Homo sapiens: one gene and its partner. The protein of the gene in region 1 interacts with the protein of each later gene in a biochemical or structural test. Each region holds a gene or a part of one and is shown on either strand. Other genes may lie near its edges. The genes, in order: SLC31A1 and PRKAB1.

Evidence for each region.
Region 2: of the proteins of SLC31A1 (region 1) and PRKAB1, one has a biochemical effect on the other in vitro, tested with the Homo sapiens proteins (one study listed by BioGRID).

The regions. Positions count from the first base shown.
Region 1 is NC_000009.12:113,223,634-113,231,956, forward strand, and holds part of SLC31A1 (high affinity copper uptake protein 1), read left to right. Parts: intron 1-8,323.
Region 2 is NC_000012.12:119,670,384-119,678,706, reverse strand, and holds part of PRKAB1 (5'-AMP-activated protein kinase subunit beta-1), read right to left. Parts: intron 6,407-8,323; coding exon 6,243-6,406; intron 4,744-6,242; coding exon 4,650-4,743; intron 4,368-4,649; coding exon 4,253-4,367; exon of another isoform or gene 2,281-4,252; intron 2,171-2,280; coding exon 2,037-2,170; intron 1-2,036. UniProt on the Homo sapiens protein: Non-catalytic subunit of AMP-activated protein kinase (AMPK), an energy sensor protein kinase that plays a key role in regulating cellular energy metabolism.

The DNA of each region.
Region 1 (8,323 bases):
CCAGAAGATTGGCCAGGAAGCAGCAATTTTTTTTCTCCACCCTCCACTCCCCTTACTCCCTCAGGGAAGCAGCAATTTTAATAATTATTTTCAAATTATCAGCAATTTTGCAACAGAGATGACAGTCTTTATATACGAGTATACCCATACTAATCTGTAATGATGCATGCATTTTAAAATTAGTAGTTTAAAGTTATAACCAAGTTATATCAGGCATAATGATAGGAATATGAATTAAATGCAGGTTCTAGGGGATCTATAACATTCCGTTCACTCAGTCACTGAAAGCAGACTTAGGGCCATTAGTTGGTTAACTGAAGAAGTAAGTTAAAGCAGGGAATCATACAGATAATAGTTATATGCATAACATTTTAACGAACACATAAACATTCTTTTGCCATTCTTTTAACATAAGGCCTCAGCCTTTTCTTGGAGTGTAGGACCCTGTTGCCTGTTTTTATAAGTAAAGCTTTATTAGAACACAGCCTTTCTCATTTGTTTATGTATTGTCTATGACTCCTCTTACCCTCCAAGGCAGAATTGAATATTTGTGATTGCAACAGAAACCACATGGCCTGCAACATCTAAAATGTTTACTTTTGGCCCTTTATAGAAAGAGCTTGCTAGCCCCTGGCCTACGTTATCTATGGTATTTTTAACATGGAATGAATACTTAAAGTCACTTGCAAAGCAGTCTCACTGCAGAATCTTTCTAGGTGTTTATGAAATGTCCTTCCAGACTTTTCTGTTGTCTCCCACACCTAACAGCAAGTTTATGTGTTATCTGTATGCTCACTTTTTTTTTTTTTTTTGAGACAGAGTTTCGCTCTTGTTGCCCAGGCTTGAATGCAATGGCACAATCTCGGCTCACCACAACCTCCACCTCCCGGGTTCAAGCGATTCTCCAGCCTCACCCTCCCGAGTAGCTGGGATTACAGGCATGTGCCACCATGCCCGGCTAATTTTGTATTTTTAGTAGAGACGGGGTTTCTCCATGTTGGTCAGGCTGGTCTGGAACTCCCGACCTCAGGTGATCCACCCGCCTTGGCCTCCCAAAGTGCTAGGATTAGAGGCGTGGGCCAACGCACCCGGCCTTGTGTGCTCACTTTTATCTGGTCTTTCGAAAGCATTCAGTGTGGTGTTTTAGAAATAACTACTAGAGAGTCTATGTAGTACAGTAGTTAAGTACTTGAGCTCTGGAGCCAAATTGCTTTGCCACTTATTAGTTGTATAGGCCATAGACAAGTTACTCAGTTTTTGCCTTTGTAAAACAGGCATAATGGTAGTATCCATTTCTAGGTTTCTTGTGAATATTATAGGAGTTAATTCATGTAAAGCATTTAGAACAGTGCCTGGCAGGTAGTAAGTACTCAGTGTTAATTGCTGCTGTCATTTTTCTCTTCTCATTTATACTTCATTGCTTTACATAGTATTTACGTACTTTCAGTAATAAGCACAACTGGCATAAATAGGTTTGTGAATAAACACACTGTCACCATTGATAAGCACACTTCACAGAGGGGGAACCAGAAGTGTTGTTCCCATCACATTGGAGAATAGCCTAATGGTGTGATGTCAGTTAAATTGGATAAGAGAGTTCTGTGGGATAGTTTGCTAAGAGTATAAGGCAACAGTTCACAGAAGAAAGTAATGGATTAAAATTGAAAAGGAATCCAGGACCATATTTGTCAAATACCTTGAAGGTCAAGGTGACAAGTTTGTACTTAGATTGGTAGGAAGTGGAATTTTTTATTCTAAATGGCATGATTGATGTAAAAAAGTTCAAATGGCTTAGGAGTGTATGAAGTAAAAAGTTACATTTCCCTAGCTCCATTCCATGTCAGTAGCCACTTCATTTTCTAATGGCCCCTAGAACATGAGGTTGTTGTGAAGGCATGGTAAACACCACTTGGGGCACTGGTATTAATCTGTTAAAATTTTCAATTCAGCTTTCCTTTGGATTATAATCTCAATTTTGAATTGAGAAAAATAAAGTTTCCATACTAAATGTGAATAAAATGAAATGACTGTTTTGAAAGTAGATACCATACTCATAAGAGTCTTTGATTCCTAAGTCTTTCTCTACCTCTTTTGTCCAACTTGGAAGTCTTGGTAGAGAAGGACTTAGGAATCAGAGACTCATCTCTACTGTTAATTCCTTTTTGCACCTTTCCCACCAGAAGTGCTACAAGAGAGAAAGATGATATAATAATCACTAGAAAAGCAAAGTGTTCGGCCAGGTGTGGTGGCTCCCGCCTGTAATCCCAGCTCAGGCAGATCACCTGAGGTCAGGAGTTCGAGACCAGCCTGGCCAACATGGTGAAACCCCGTGTCTGCTGAAAATACAAAAATTAGTCAGGCATGGTGGCGGGCACCTGTAGTCCCAGCTACTCAGGAGACGGAGGCACGAGAATTGCTTGAGCTCCGGAGAGGCGGAGGTTGCAGTGAGCTGAGGTCACGCCACTGTGCGCCAACCTGGGCGACAGAGTGAGACTCCATCTCAAAAAAAAAAAAAAAGAAATAAAGAAAGCAAAGTGTTTACAGTGACAAGTTGATTTCAACTAGCAGTTGTCAGTTAAGTTAGTAACAGGGCATCACCCAAATAACTGCATTTTAAAGTGGACAGGGCAGGCCTGACTGGGGAAAAGGGAGGGAAGGGGTAGGGGGTTCCTGATGCCTGTACTCCCACATGCAGCTCTTAAATCCATTTTAAAAACTTAAAAGTTTTCTGTAGTTTTGTGACTTAAGTATAACAAGTCATCAAAAGTCTGATACTTAATACATTACAATGAACAGTTTATGCCAAAAGAAATCTTATAGTAGGGCCTGGGAAGGAAATGCTTTTGAAGTTCCATTGCTTTGAGTAATATCATTTTATGATTTAGGTAACATCCCCAAGCAGAGGAGGGGCCCATCCTTAGGAATGCAAAGCCCTGCAGAGAAGGAAAGGGTTGAGAAGGGTCCACCCTACCTCTTTTCCTTTACACAATGGCCCTAGGCTTTTGTATACAACCTGCTTTTGTAGGCTTAGGACATTATGAAATACAGCATGGTAAGATGGAAGCCTGAATCTCAAAAGTAAATATGAGAAATGATTTGGAGGGAACATATAAAGAGAGCAAAATTCTAGCAACAGGTGACATATTTCCCTAGATAGAAGAGTTATTGTAGAACTATGATGAGTGTTTATATAATTTTGAAGCAGTTTACAGCATCTAGAATGTAGTCATTTAATTTATGAAATGAAAGGGAAATGGTGTAACTCATACACCCGCATCCTCTCTCCTACCTTTTCTGATGGCTTTTTATGAGTTCTCACACAACCCCTATGCATAATCTATACCTTAGTACATTTTACATTATTTTTAAATTATTTACATGTGTCCCTCTTTCACCAGAATGGGTTTCTTATGGTTAGAGTTTCATCATGGTACCTTCATTCGATAGGTATGCAATAAATAGTGAAAGAATAGTCTGAGTTCCTTGAAATTGCATAGCAAATGAGACCTAAGAGCCAGATCTAGAATGCAGATGTAGAACCTCTTTCAGTTCCTAGCCCAGTACTTTTACTGCCACACCATACAGCCTCTATCTGAGATATTGAACAATTTTTTTCTTTTTTCTTTTATTTTTTCTTGAAACAGGATCTTGCTTTGTTGCCCAGGCTGGAGTGCAGGAGCACAATCTCAGCTCACTGCAACCTCTGTCTCCCAGGCTCAAGCAATCTTCCCATCTCAGCCTTTCGAGTAGCCGGGACTACAGGCATGCACCACCACGCCCAGCTAATTTTTTGTATTTTTGATAGAGTCGGGGCTTTGCCATGTTGCCCAGGCTGGTCTCAAACTCCTGAGCTTAAGCAGTCTGCCCACCTTGGCCTCTTAGAGTGCTGGGATTACAGGCATGAGCCACCATGTCCAGCCTCATTTGCATTCTTGTACTGCATTTTCATTAAATCATTCAAGTTCCTTTTATCTTGTGTAACATATTTAATTGCATTTTCCTACTGAATAAAAAAAAGGGAACAGTTCAAATGTTTTCTAGTTTCTGTCTTATGCCATATTAATTTCCAATATTACTCATAGGCAAACCAACAACATTATTATCCAAACAGTTTAAATGCTATGTAATATAACTAAAGCAAAGTTTAGACAAGGAGGACCATTGTCTACATTTGATTATAACAATAAAGCAGTTAAAGCAATGCTTTGCCAATGTATATTTGTCTGACTAGCTAGTTTTGTTTAAATCAAACTGTGAAAGGCTGTATACTTCAAGAAACATGAAAGTGAGCCTTATGTGTGACTTAGTTCCTTTCAGAGATTAATTTTGTCATCTAATGAGCAAGCAAGCTATTATATTTCATATTTACTGTACCTTAAAATTGGAAAGTATTTAACATATTTTATTTGACCCTTACAATACTATGAGATTGGCAGCGTAGGTATTTTAATATCTGTTTTGCAAATTTTGCAAATTTTGGTGATTTGCCTAATGTCACATGGCTAGTATATGGCAAATGTGGGTCCAGAGCTCAGAGCCTTTGATGCCTCGTGCTGCATGCTTTCTCCACTCTAAGATACTATCTAGAAAACACTGAAATTGTCACATAAATCATACTAAAGCACAGTTAGCGGACTGGAAGTGCGTCAAGGCTACAAAAGGATCCTGTAAGAGGAGCATGAAAGGGTGCATCATGTGATTACATTATTCCAGGATGTGGCTTACCCAACAACAAAAGGTATCACAGAAATGGAGTAAAGTAGCTGGGAGATCCACTCCCCATTGGACTTAGGCCCTGTTATCATTACATAACTAAAAGACCTTTTCAGTTTGTTTGTTTGACATATCAAATTTGAGTTGTCCTATTAGAACCAGGCAAATAAAAGCTTTTGTAAAGGCCTTTGGAAGAATGTAGTTGTACACTTGATCTTCTTTGTACAGAAGGGTGGGAGTGGGCAAGAGAAATAGGAGCTTCTATGTTATTTGCCACCAGAACAGGATATGTAAAGCTCAGAAACCCATCCTGCTTAGCTGCTTCCCAGCAAGCCATCCGGAGAAATGGGGCTGGAGAAAGCGGTTAGTCTAGTGTTATGGAGCCTTCTATCAGAAGCAGATGTTATGGATTCACCTAACTAAAGAATGTTAGTGTCATCATTTAATAACATAAGCCTCAGTTTCCACATCTGTAAAATAAAGGAGTTGGATTTGATGATACTTTTTTTTTTCTTTTGAGTTGGAGTTTCGCTCTTGTTGCCCAGGCTGAAGTGCAATAGTGTGATCTCGGCTCATTGCAACCTCTGCCTCCTGGGTTCAAGTGATTCTCCTGCCTTAGCCTCCCTAGTATCTGGGATTACAGGCATGTGCCACCACGACCGGCTGATTTTATATTTTTAGTAGAGATGGCGTTTCTCCATGTTGGTCAGGCTGGTCTTGAACTCCTGACCTCAGGTGATCCGCCCGCCATGGCCTCCCAAAGTGCTGGGATTATAGGCGTGATCCACTGCGCCTGACTGATAATTTAATTTTTTAAATAGGAAATATATTCATATGGTTTGTAATTCAAAAAGTACACAAGGATATTCAGTGAAAAGTATTTCATTTACTCCTACCCACTTCTGACCAGCTCTCCTTAGGGACCACGGTCCTATTTTGCCTCCCAGGCTCAACCAACAACTTTGTTGTTTCCCCCCAACTCCCCTGCAGATAGTATAGGTGTATAAAAATAACATGAACATACTCTGTTTCCTTTTTAAGTTTTTTACAAATTATAGCATACAGTATATTCTGCTTTTATTTCATTTCATAATACGTCTTACAGATCATTCTATATCAATATATATGATCGTTCTCATTCTTATTCTGCTAAGTATTCCATTGTATGAAAATATGATAACTCATTTAATCAGTGCCCTATCAATGAACATTTAGGTTGTATTTTTAATATTTTGCTATTACAAACACTCCTGTTATAAGTAACTTTGTACATACACATTTCACATATGTGCCAGTTTATCTGTAGAATGAATATTTAGAAGTGGGATTACTGTGTTAAAGAATGTGGGCAGACTGATGACTGTTCTAGTTTTGATCTTCTATGAGACTTTAACTGAAAATGATTAGTGGAAAAGAAAAAGTATCATTTTCTTGGTAATATCTTAATTTTTATCTCTTACTATTCAGAACTAAGTCTTAAGTAAGAGCCAAGAATAGGTAATCTCTCCAAAATTATGTTGAATTGCAGACTTCACTAAAGTCACCTGCATCATGGTCTTGTAGATTTTTCTATTGCTTTTCAGTATAATACTATTCAAGCTATTTGCAAGGTGAATATTATAAACTCAGAACAAAAGGAGACTGTCTCCCAACTATGTTTACTAGCATTTACCAAGTAGAGGATTCAGAAGATTTGCTCTTTATTACAATTTATGTAGGGAGTGAAGATGGAAAGATGAAACAAAGAGAGCCTAACAAATATCTGCCTCTGTCTGTGTTTTACTGTCTTCCCAAATTTTTGGATGGTTATGAGGTGTGTGATAACTTTACAAAGTGTATGATACCATAACAATTACTAATCTTTTGGGGATTTGTTTGTTTGTTCGTTTGTTTGAGAGACAGAGTCTTGGTCTGTCGCCCAGGCTGGAGTGCGGTGGCGCGATCTCAGCTCACTGCAGCCTCAACCTCCCTGGCTCAGGCTATCCTCCTGCCTCAGCCTACCAAAGTAGTACAAAAGTAGATCCTATGGCCTCAGCCTATAGCTGAGACTACAGGCATGCATCTCCACGCCTGGCTACTTTTCTTGATTTTTTGAGGAGACAAGGCCTCACTATGTTGCCCGGGCTGGTCTTGAACTCCTGGACTCAAGAGATCCTTCCACCTCAGCCTCCCAAAGTTCTGGGATTATAGGCATGAGCCACTGTACCCTGCCTGTTTTGTTTTTAATTAATACATAATAATTGTACATATTTATGGGGTACAGTGTGATATTTTAATACGTATATAAATTGCATAATGATCAAACGATGGTGTTTAGCGTATACATCACCTCAAACATTTATCATTTCTTTATGGTAAGAACATTCAGAATTCTCTCTTCTAGATATTTTGAAATAGCCACAATAACATTGTTTACTATAGTCACTAGTCTTTTGGGGAAGCTAGGGACCATAAAGCAGATCAGAATTGTATCAGCCCCTCATGCTTTCTTGACTATAACCTACTAACTTTTCTTTTCTCCCCATCTCACCTCCCTCATTCTCTTTCTAGGTACAATAAGCCATTTGTGAAATTTTCCCTGTTCAATAGCAAGTTTAAGCCAGAGCCTCCATCCTTTCCATCTCTGAATTCCCTATAGCCTCTGGGGCAGAGGGTACTTCATAATACTTGTTGAGTTGAATTGAGGTAGATGTCAAAGTGATCTGACCTCACTTTGCTCCCCTCTCAAGTGCCATATCCTTCCTTTTCCCTGCTCAGCCTTGACACACCTATCAAGCCATCCCTTTGCATGCTTAATTTGGTTCAGGAAAGGACAAGAGACCAAGTAAATTATCTTGAAGAGGAGTCTGTGTCTGCCTATGTTTAAGTAAATGCGCACACACACCTATCTTTCTGGCTCCTGCTGCCATTCTTTGTGTTGCGCTTAAAAATTGGGGGCCGGGTACGGTGGCTTACACCTGTAATCCGAGCATTTTGGGAGACTGAGGCAGAAGAATCACTTAAGGGCTGGAGTTCAAGACCAGCCTGGGCAACATAGGGAGACCCCTTCTCTACAAAAAGTTTTAAAATTAGCTGAGCATAATGGTATGTACCTATGTTCCCAGCTACTCTGGAGGCTGAGGTGGGAGGATCACTTGAGCCCAGGAGGTGTAGGCCGCAGTGAGCTGTAATCATGCTACTGCACTCCAGCCGGGACAACAGAATATGATCTTGTCTCAAAAAAAAAAAAAATGGGGAAATTATTTATTTAGTTATGCATTAGTGGTAGCTGTGGAGTTAGGCACACCTGGTAGGAACAGCATTGGAATGTATAATTCAAAATACACATGTATCTTTTTATTCACATGAATTCCATTTTATGTGTATGAAATCATCAAGATCAAAGTGAATATTAGATGAATATGAACTCTAGCTTATTGGACATTTAGAAGATAGAGTTTGATTAGTGTTGATTTTTTTTTATTTTAGATTTTAAAAACTTGTCTATGGGCCATACGTTAAGTACTCATAGTATCTCTGTGGAAGAGTTCTGATAAACTCTGGGATAGGCGATAGCCAGGCCCACATGTGGACTATAACTCCTGTAAAGTTACAGATAACAGAATTATAT
Region 2 (8,323 bases), on another chromosome or scaffold:
GCCTTACAAAAGGAATCTTGTCATCTGTGACAGCATGGATAAACCTGGAGGACATTAAGTGAAATGAGCCAGGCACAGAAAGACAAATCCCATGTGATGTCACTTATGTGGAATCCAAGAAAGTCGAACTCACAGAAGTAGAGAGTAGAGTGGTGGTTGCCAGCGGCTAGGAGTGGTGGGGGTAGGGAGATGCTGGTCAAAGAATACAACATTTCAGTTAGACAGGAGGAATACGTTCAAGAGATCCACTGTACAACACGGTGACTATTAGTAACAATGTATTCTTGAAAATCTCTAAGACAGTAGATTTTAAGTGTTCTCCCTACTGCTCTGTGCCTCAGTTTCCCCATCCCTAAAATGGGGGTAATAATTGCACCTACTTCACATGGTTGTTGTGAGGCTTGAATAAGAATACACGAAAAGCACTTAAGATTAGTTTGGGGCAAAATAAATGTTAACCCTTTAGTAGTGACAACTGTAACCACAGTTTACATTAGAGCTTAGTGCTACCTTGGACAGAGGGGTCCTGACATTCTCATATTCCCAGCCCCCTGGGCCACTCTCAGCTTGTCTATTCCCAGCAGCAGTCTCCATCAGAGAAGATGGCTAGTGATGCCTCCCTTTTCTAGAAAAAACAAAACCTGGCCAGGCACGGTGGTTCACGCCTGTAATCCCGGCACTTTGGGAGGCCGAGGCGGGTGGATCACGAGGCTAGGAGATCGAGACCATCTTGGCTAACATGGTGAAACCCCATCTTTACTAAAAATACAAAAAATTTGCCGGGCGTGGTGGCGGGGGCCTGTAGTCCCAGCTACTCGGGAGGCTGAGGCAGGAGAATGGCGTGAACTCGGGAGGCGGAGCTTGCAGTGAGCCAAGATGGCACCACAGCACTCCAGCCTGGGCAACAGAGCAAGACTCCGTCTCAAAAAAAAAAAAAAAAAAAAACAAACCTCACTAGCTTAGGAGGGCACTGAAAGTCATCTTACCCACCAACCTTTGTAAAGTTAGAGCTAAGGGAAGCAGTGTCAACTAAGTGCTTCTAAGGCAGAAGCTACATGTCCTTGAAACTCTTCACCTGTGACCTATTTGAGACTGTTGCCAACTCAGTGCTGGAAAGATGGTGGGCCCTGCCAGCTGAGGCGTGCTGTCCTTACCACTGGCCTCTTCTGGGCCTATACCAGGATGGCTACCCAGCTGCAGGGGCACTCCCAGCACAGGAGGTGACCTGAGAAAGGCAAGCCCTGTTGGGTACCCTGTAGGGTAACAAGCACTGAGACCCTGTCCTGGCAGCCCGGCAGGGACCACTGTAGGGACACCTGCATGTGTACACGTGCATTCCTCGTCTCAGCACACATGCCCTCCACTTCAGGGTGGAGTGTTCAGTAGCAGCATGGTTACTTTAAGCACCTCGTAAACAATGCCTCTTAAGAGGTAGCTTGGACCAAGCTGAATTCCTGGATTCCCAAGAATTACGGCTGTGCCATGCATCCCAGAGCTAGGCGGACTGGGCAGGCAATCCAGGTTAGATGGAACAGAAAACAGAATCACAACAGAACTGGCTGTTCTTCAAGATCCAGGAGGACACACACTTCTTTTCTGCATGTAATAATTTCCCGGAGGAGAAATGTGTGTTACCTAGATATCCCAAATTTTGATCCAGGAGTACTGATATTTCTAAAAGCAATTGAATGATTAAAACTAGATTCTAAAATGTGGGGGCCAGAGCATGTAGCTTACTAAGAAGAGATGGTGATACAGTTTGTCATGAAATGTAAATTGAACAGGGCTTAGACTGAGGCAGGCGTGAAGGACAAGGAAGAGTAGTGCAGAAAGGCTTTGCAAGACGAGGCAGCGGTGTCCACACTGGGAACCTCTTGTTATCAGCCCATCCCCACAGCAGAGGTGAACGGCACAGTTCACACTAGGGGGTGACACTGAGCTTGCTCACCAGCTGCTTTGCAAGAGGTGGACACAGGAAAGAAAGCAACTGAACATGACCCACGGCGGATGGTCCGGGCAGATGCCCACATACTTACGGAAATCCCCGTGTCCTTGTTCAGGATGACCTGGAGGAGATGTGGGGGGAGAATAGGGGGTGCCCGAAAGCGCTCTTCGGGTTTGCAGACGTAGGGCTCCTGATGGTAGGGTCCTGGGGGAGAACTGGACAGCTCTGTTGGGAGATGGTAACAGGACTTTACTTTGAAAATCAGGCATTCTAGGAGCAGCCTTACTTATGTTGTCATCATCTCATTTTCCTTGTCTCTTGTTCCCTCAATGCAGATTTACATTCTCTTGAAGGATGCACTGGTTCCAAGAGTGCAGAATAGAGGAGAGGAGAAAACCCTTTTGGAATCTGGGTGACTAGCATACAACTCAGTAGTCAACTCAGATGCCCTGGTGGAAGACACGGCCCAGCCAGTGAGTCTGCGTCAGATCACAAGGAGGCTATTCTCGATAACTTAATCCCACACGCACGGCAGAATAAGACTTCCTTCTCCCTTCAGGCTGGGCTGGCAAAACCACAAAGAAGCTGGAGGCTAAGTGAGGATTGAGTAGCTAAGTCCAAGTTATGGGCACCCCCGGCCGCAATGCAACAGAAGATGAGGCAGTCTGTTTACACAGAGGCCGTGGAGAAAACAGGCTAAACGAGGCACATTTCAAAATGGGGGGGAAAATTGAAAGCCCAATATCTAAAGGCTCTTTAACTCCATTACACTCAAGTTCCTTCCAAACTCTTGCTTGAGTATCTGGATTATTCAGATACACTGAGAAGCTGCTACAAGAGCAGGATTTCATAATGCTAGAACACTGGATAGTGACGTTTGGCCAGCCAGAAGGTACCAAGCCATCATCCAAAGAACGCGTGGGATGGTTCTGGTCGCCAGATCCTGGGACTGGTCCAGGGAAAATCTGCTATGCCCCAGCTCTGCCAATTCCCTCAATGTCATTTTTCAGGGGACAAGCCCCGTTTATGTGACCCAACCATATCACAGCAAGAAACTGAGAAAAGCATGAAGTGCAGAAAACTGAGCCATAAGGAGTAAATAACATTTTGAGGAAGTAAGTGTCGAAACAGAAGTCTGTAGAGAACGTGGAATTAGCTTCGTATCAGTGAGGGGTCCGTTTCCTTTCCCTAGGTGGAAATTTGACTAAAAAGCTTGTAAGTGGCTTAAAATTACATGTATCAGTAAGTTATATATTTTGGAGGATATTTGGGCACACTTCCTCCATTCCCTGATTCTCAACTATCTGCAAAAAAACTAGATGATATCTCTAAAAGACTAATTACCCAGATAAAAGCACAGATTTCGGATTTCCAAGTCCTGCTCAACAAACTGTCAACCACAGTGAGCCCATTGTGATCATTTTACCACTGTGATTTCTGAACTGGTAACAAGAAATCCTGGTGGCAGAACTTCCAGGCCTAACTAGACAATGATGAAGAACTCTCCTGTCAACGAACGGAATCTGTTTTCTTAGGGCGCCAGATATTCTGCCAGGGCATCTTTCCACTGCCTCCCTCAGAGTCCAGGAATTGTTAAGCCCCCGCCTCCAAGAAGGGGAACACTTTAGATCGCAACCCTCTTCCCCCGAACTGTATGAATCATGTTCCAGGTAGTTTCTTCCTGTGGGGCTTGGAGGGAAAGCAATTTATTGAAACCTCGATGCCTGAAAGGCTCTTACAAGATGGAGAAGTTTTACTGGGTCTGTATTTCTGTACCAAATAGCTTCCCATCAAGGAGAGTTGGGCTGTGCAGGCTGTTTCCCGTGGGGAGCCGCATCCTCCCCAAAGGGATTCTGACAAGGTGCTAATGTACCACATAAGTGACTGCTAAGGTCACTGAGGTGTCCATTTACACCTGTCAGGCTGAAATTCTTCAGGCACCACAAGTGGGATGAGACACAGGCTTCCCCAGTGCTGGGCTGTCACTGACTCAGTGCCACCCTCCAGGGCCTCTTCAGCCCTGCCCTTGGCACGAGATCAAGCTATGGTTCCATTTCTGCTGTCTGCGTTCTGTGGCCAAGCAGACCTACTGAATACCTGAGATGACCAGGGAAATGACTTGTAGCTCCCTTAGGGCTAAATTTCAACAACCTGACAGGAATTAAGTTCTGTGGCCTTTAAGTGGGGGCTATAAATGCCTATCTGACTGGGCAGCTTCAGCTCAAGAGAGGCAAGAGAAACAAGAGTATGTCTAGACTGTACAGCCCCCACCTGCACGCATGTGGTATAAAATAACTGTGTTCATACCAGACACATCGGAGCACTTTTGGGAATCCACCATTAAAGCATCAAATACTTCAAAGTCAGTTTTCTTCACTTGAATGATGTTGTTAACTGTGCCAAGCTGGCTGGTTACTATGGGCTGGGAAGAGACAGATAGGCAGAAATCATAACGTGGAAGGTCTGCGGAGTTATTCTTCAGAGGACTTGGAATTCCTGGCTGGAAGGCCTCATCTCCTGGCTAGCCACCCTGCTCATCTTGGTCAAGTATGCCAACTGTCTGACAGGTAGTGCTGCTACTCAGCTCTGCCACACACGGGGACTTTTACTAGCTGGGCAAAGGGACCTAGCGGCAATCTCTTGGGAAGGTGATTTGTTTGGAATGTGCGGGCACCCAGAGGACCAGAGGTGGGAGGAAGAGTACCTCGGAAGGGTCGTGCGTCCACTGACCATCCACAAAGAACTTGTACTGATGCTCTCCTTCCGGCAGATCCAGGATGGCTACAAAGTTATTGTGGCTGCAAGGAAAAAGGAAGCAGAGGACTTCCGTGGGGTGGGCTGCCCCCCGAGCTTACTTGCCAAACCAGCTACAGAACAAAACGTTTCCACATAAAACCAAGAGTTCAGCTGCAGGAGAACAAACATTTTTAGCCCATTTAGACAATTCAGCATAATGACCTCAATCTGAAAAGGCTATAAGGAAGCAGCAGTGCGACACAGTTTCCTGAAAACTCACCTTACTCAAATACCAGGAAACCACATCCCTAATGTTAAAAGGTCAACAGTCAGGCATTTGTGCGTCTCAAGCTCGCAAGGCTCCTGGATGCCAAGGAGGATGACAACACAAGATAAACAGAAGCTGCCTCGTTTTACCCTTTGTCACTTTGCCTTGGGCAGGAGAAGGGATCAATTGAATAGGAAGCTCAAATGTTCTCTAAAGAAACTTGCCTAATGACTGAAAAACCAAACTCCGGAAGAGCCCCTTCACTGGGTTGTTTTGTCCCCTGGCTTGAACTGACCTGTGACTGCTGTGCTGAGTGGCTCCCTCCTTCTCCAATGGAAACGCTGGAAAGCAGGCAGCCCCTGACAATAGGCCTGACACTTTCTCCCTCATTTTATCAAGAATACTCACTAAAGGTGTTCTCTCACTGACAACTTAAGACAGAAGTCCATGCTGGGGTTCCTGATAAAATGTCTTACTATAATCCTTGCTAATGACACCTACATAGCATGTATTTTTCTTTTCTTTTTGGAGACAAAGTCTTGCTCTGTTGCCCAGGCTGGAGTGCAGTGGTGCAACCACTGCTCACTACAGCACTGACCTCTCAGGCTCAAACAATCCTCCCATCTCAGCCTCCCGAGTAGCTGGGGATACAGGTGTGCACCACCATGTCCAGCTAATTTTTAATTTTTTTGTAGAGATGGGGGTCTCACTATGTTGCCCAGGCTGGTCTTGAACTCCTAGCCTCAAGCAATCCTCCTGCCTCAGCCCCCAAAAGTGCTGAGATCATAGGCATGAGCCCCCATGCCCAGCCAACATGTACTTTTCAAACAAAGTATTACGCAGAGTCAAAGTTAGATGAAACCTCAGAGATGATCTGGTCCAATATTCCCTCTTTACAGAAACGAACGCTGAGGCTCAGGTTAACTAACGTTAGGTGACTGACAGCATGGCCAATGTGGGCTCAAATGTGGGTTTCTAAGATTCCAGCCCAGTGCTCCCTTACTGCATTAAGACAGATTTTTGTGTTTCTGTGGAAAAGTCCTGACCGAACAGATAGCTGAGGATCTGAAGTGAAAGATGTCTGTGACACAGAAATATTCTCTTTCTTCTGTACTCTAAACCTAGAGACCACCAAGGTTTAACATTTGAACCTTAAGACTTATTAAGCAAAATTATTTTTCCACTAGGCATCCATTTTATAGAAACATCCATTTTCTGTTCTCTCTCAGAGATGTTTTAGAAAGAAGAGAATTTATGTTAAGACAAATATGTGAACACTCCCCAGGCAATTACCTTCTGGTGAGGGGAAGTTTACTCCAGTTGTTGAAGGACCCAGATAAGTAAACTTCCTTTCCGCCCCCCGTCCATCGAAACACCGTTGGCCGAGCCTGGGCGGGAGCTTTATCATTCACTTCCAGATCATGCTGCCAGGCCAGGAATTCCTCCTTCTCTGGTGCCTAGAAGCAGAGCAGTTTACTCAGAAAGCCATAAGCGAGCTCCCTACAACAGACAATATTGACAATTCATTCTAAAGACGCAGCTGTTACTATCTTGGTTCATGGTTAGGATCGGAAACTTACTAGTGGTGCCTCAGTTTCCTTGCCTGCAAAATAGAAATATATTTTTTAAGGTTGTGAAGACTGAGACAGTCCATGTAAGTGCTCTATATAGTGTCTGACACAGTGAGTGCTAATTATTAGCTATTGTTGTCATTAAAGAAGTTGACATCAAAATTCTAGAAGAAGCTATGAAACACACTTGGAAGGGGCTACTACGAATCCAAGACTAGCTTAATGTCATGTTCCTCCCTTAATCAAGCAAGATTTGAAGTACAGTCATGTGCATGATGTCTTAGTCAACGACGGACTGTGTATATGGTAGTCCCATAAGATTATACCATATTTTTATTGTTATCTTTTCTATGTTTAGATACATTTAAGTACACAAATCCTTAAATATACTTGTGGAATAAGTGTCTACAGTATTCAGTAGAATAACATGCTGTACAGGTTTATAGTCCATAAGCAACAGGTTACACCATATAGACTAGGTGATACGGTTTGGCTCTGCGTCCCCACCCAAATCTCACCTTGAATTGTAATCCCCATAATCCCCACGTGTCAAGGGCAGGACCAGGTGGAGGTATCGATCATGGGGGCGGTTTCCCCATGCTGTTCTCTGACAGTGAGTGAGTCTCATGAGATCTGATGGTTTTATAAGCATCTGGCATTTCCCCTGCTTGCTCTCATTCTCTTCTGCCGTCCTGTGAAGAGGTGCCTTTTACCATGATTGTAAGTTTCCTAAGGCCTCCCCAGCCATGCGGAACTGAGTCAATTAAACCTCTTTTCTTTATAAATTACCCAGTCTCGGGTATTTCTACATAGTAGCATGAGAACAGACTAGGTTTGTGTAAGTACACTCTATGATGTTCACACAATGATAAAATCACCTAATGATGTATTTCTCAGAATATGTCCCTGTCATTAAGTGATGTATGACTGTACATGAAAATTTAAGAGGAACAATTCTAGAGCTGTCAACTTGAAAATAGGCAAATCCAGATTTTGAGGAAGGGAAAAACTACTCACAAAGTTCTGTCTAGGGACTGGGGAATAAAGCAAGACAAAGACTGAACCCTCATTAGGATAAATGATAACCTCCAGTGTGGTAAGCTCCGTATAACTGAGGTATTCCAGAATAAGAAATAAACTCATCCAAATCTATCTGGATGACATATGTAGTCATGCACCTTTTAGATTTTTTCCCAGTCAGAAGCCAAAGACTTAAAAAGAGCAGAAGGTTCAGGCTGGAAAAGACTCTTCAGGGAGTTAAGCAGGCTTCTAGCACCTTCATCTCAAATACCGACCTCAGCTTATCCAAATGATGCCTGTATTCTTTGAATTCTAACAAGATCTACATATTAAATAACAGACTGGAATCACTTCACACTAAGGATAACTAATTATGACCAAAATAGCACCCTAGTGTAGTTAAAAGAATTCACGACTTTTTTGGTATCTGGGGATTTCAGTAACTTCTAATGAAGTGAGAATGGACGCTGCTTGAAATCATTCCCCATAGATGATGTGTGTGCTCAACATTTCCTGGAGGAGTTTTGGAATAGTAACAGAACAAATACTTCTGAAGAAAGTAGTTTTGATTCCTTTGGTGTCTTAAATAGCCTTCTTGGGACCAGGGACCAAAATTACCTCCTGGGGAAAGGACGTCAAGTCATTAGAGAAACATGATTCTAAAGTTCACTTTGCACACAGCTCTTCAAGAATGCAACAAATTCAGAGAGCAAGTTCAAACCACAGGTTGTAGGGCCACATAAAAGCAGCCTCTTTGTAGTCAGGCTCAAAACTAAGATCCAA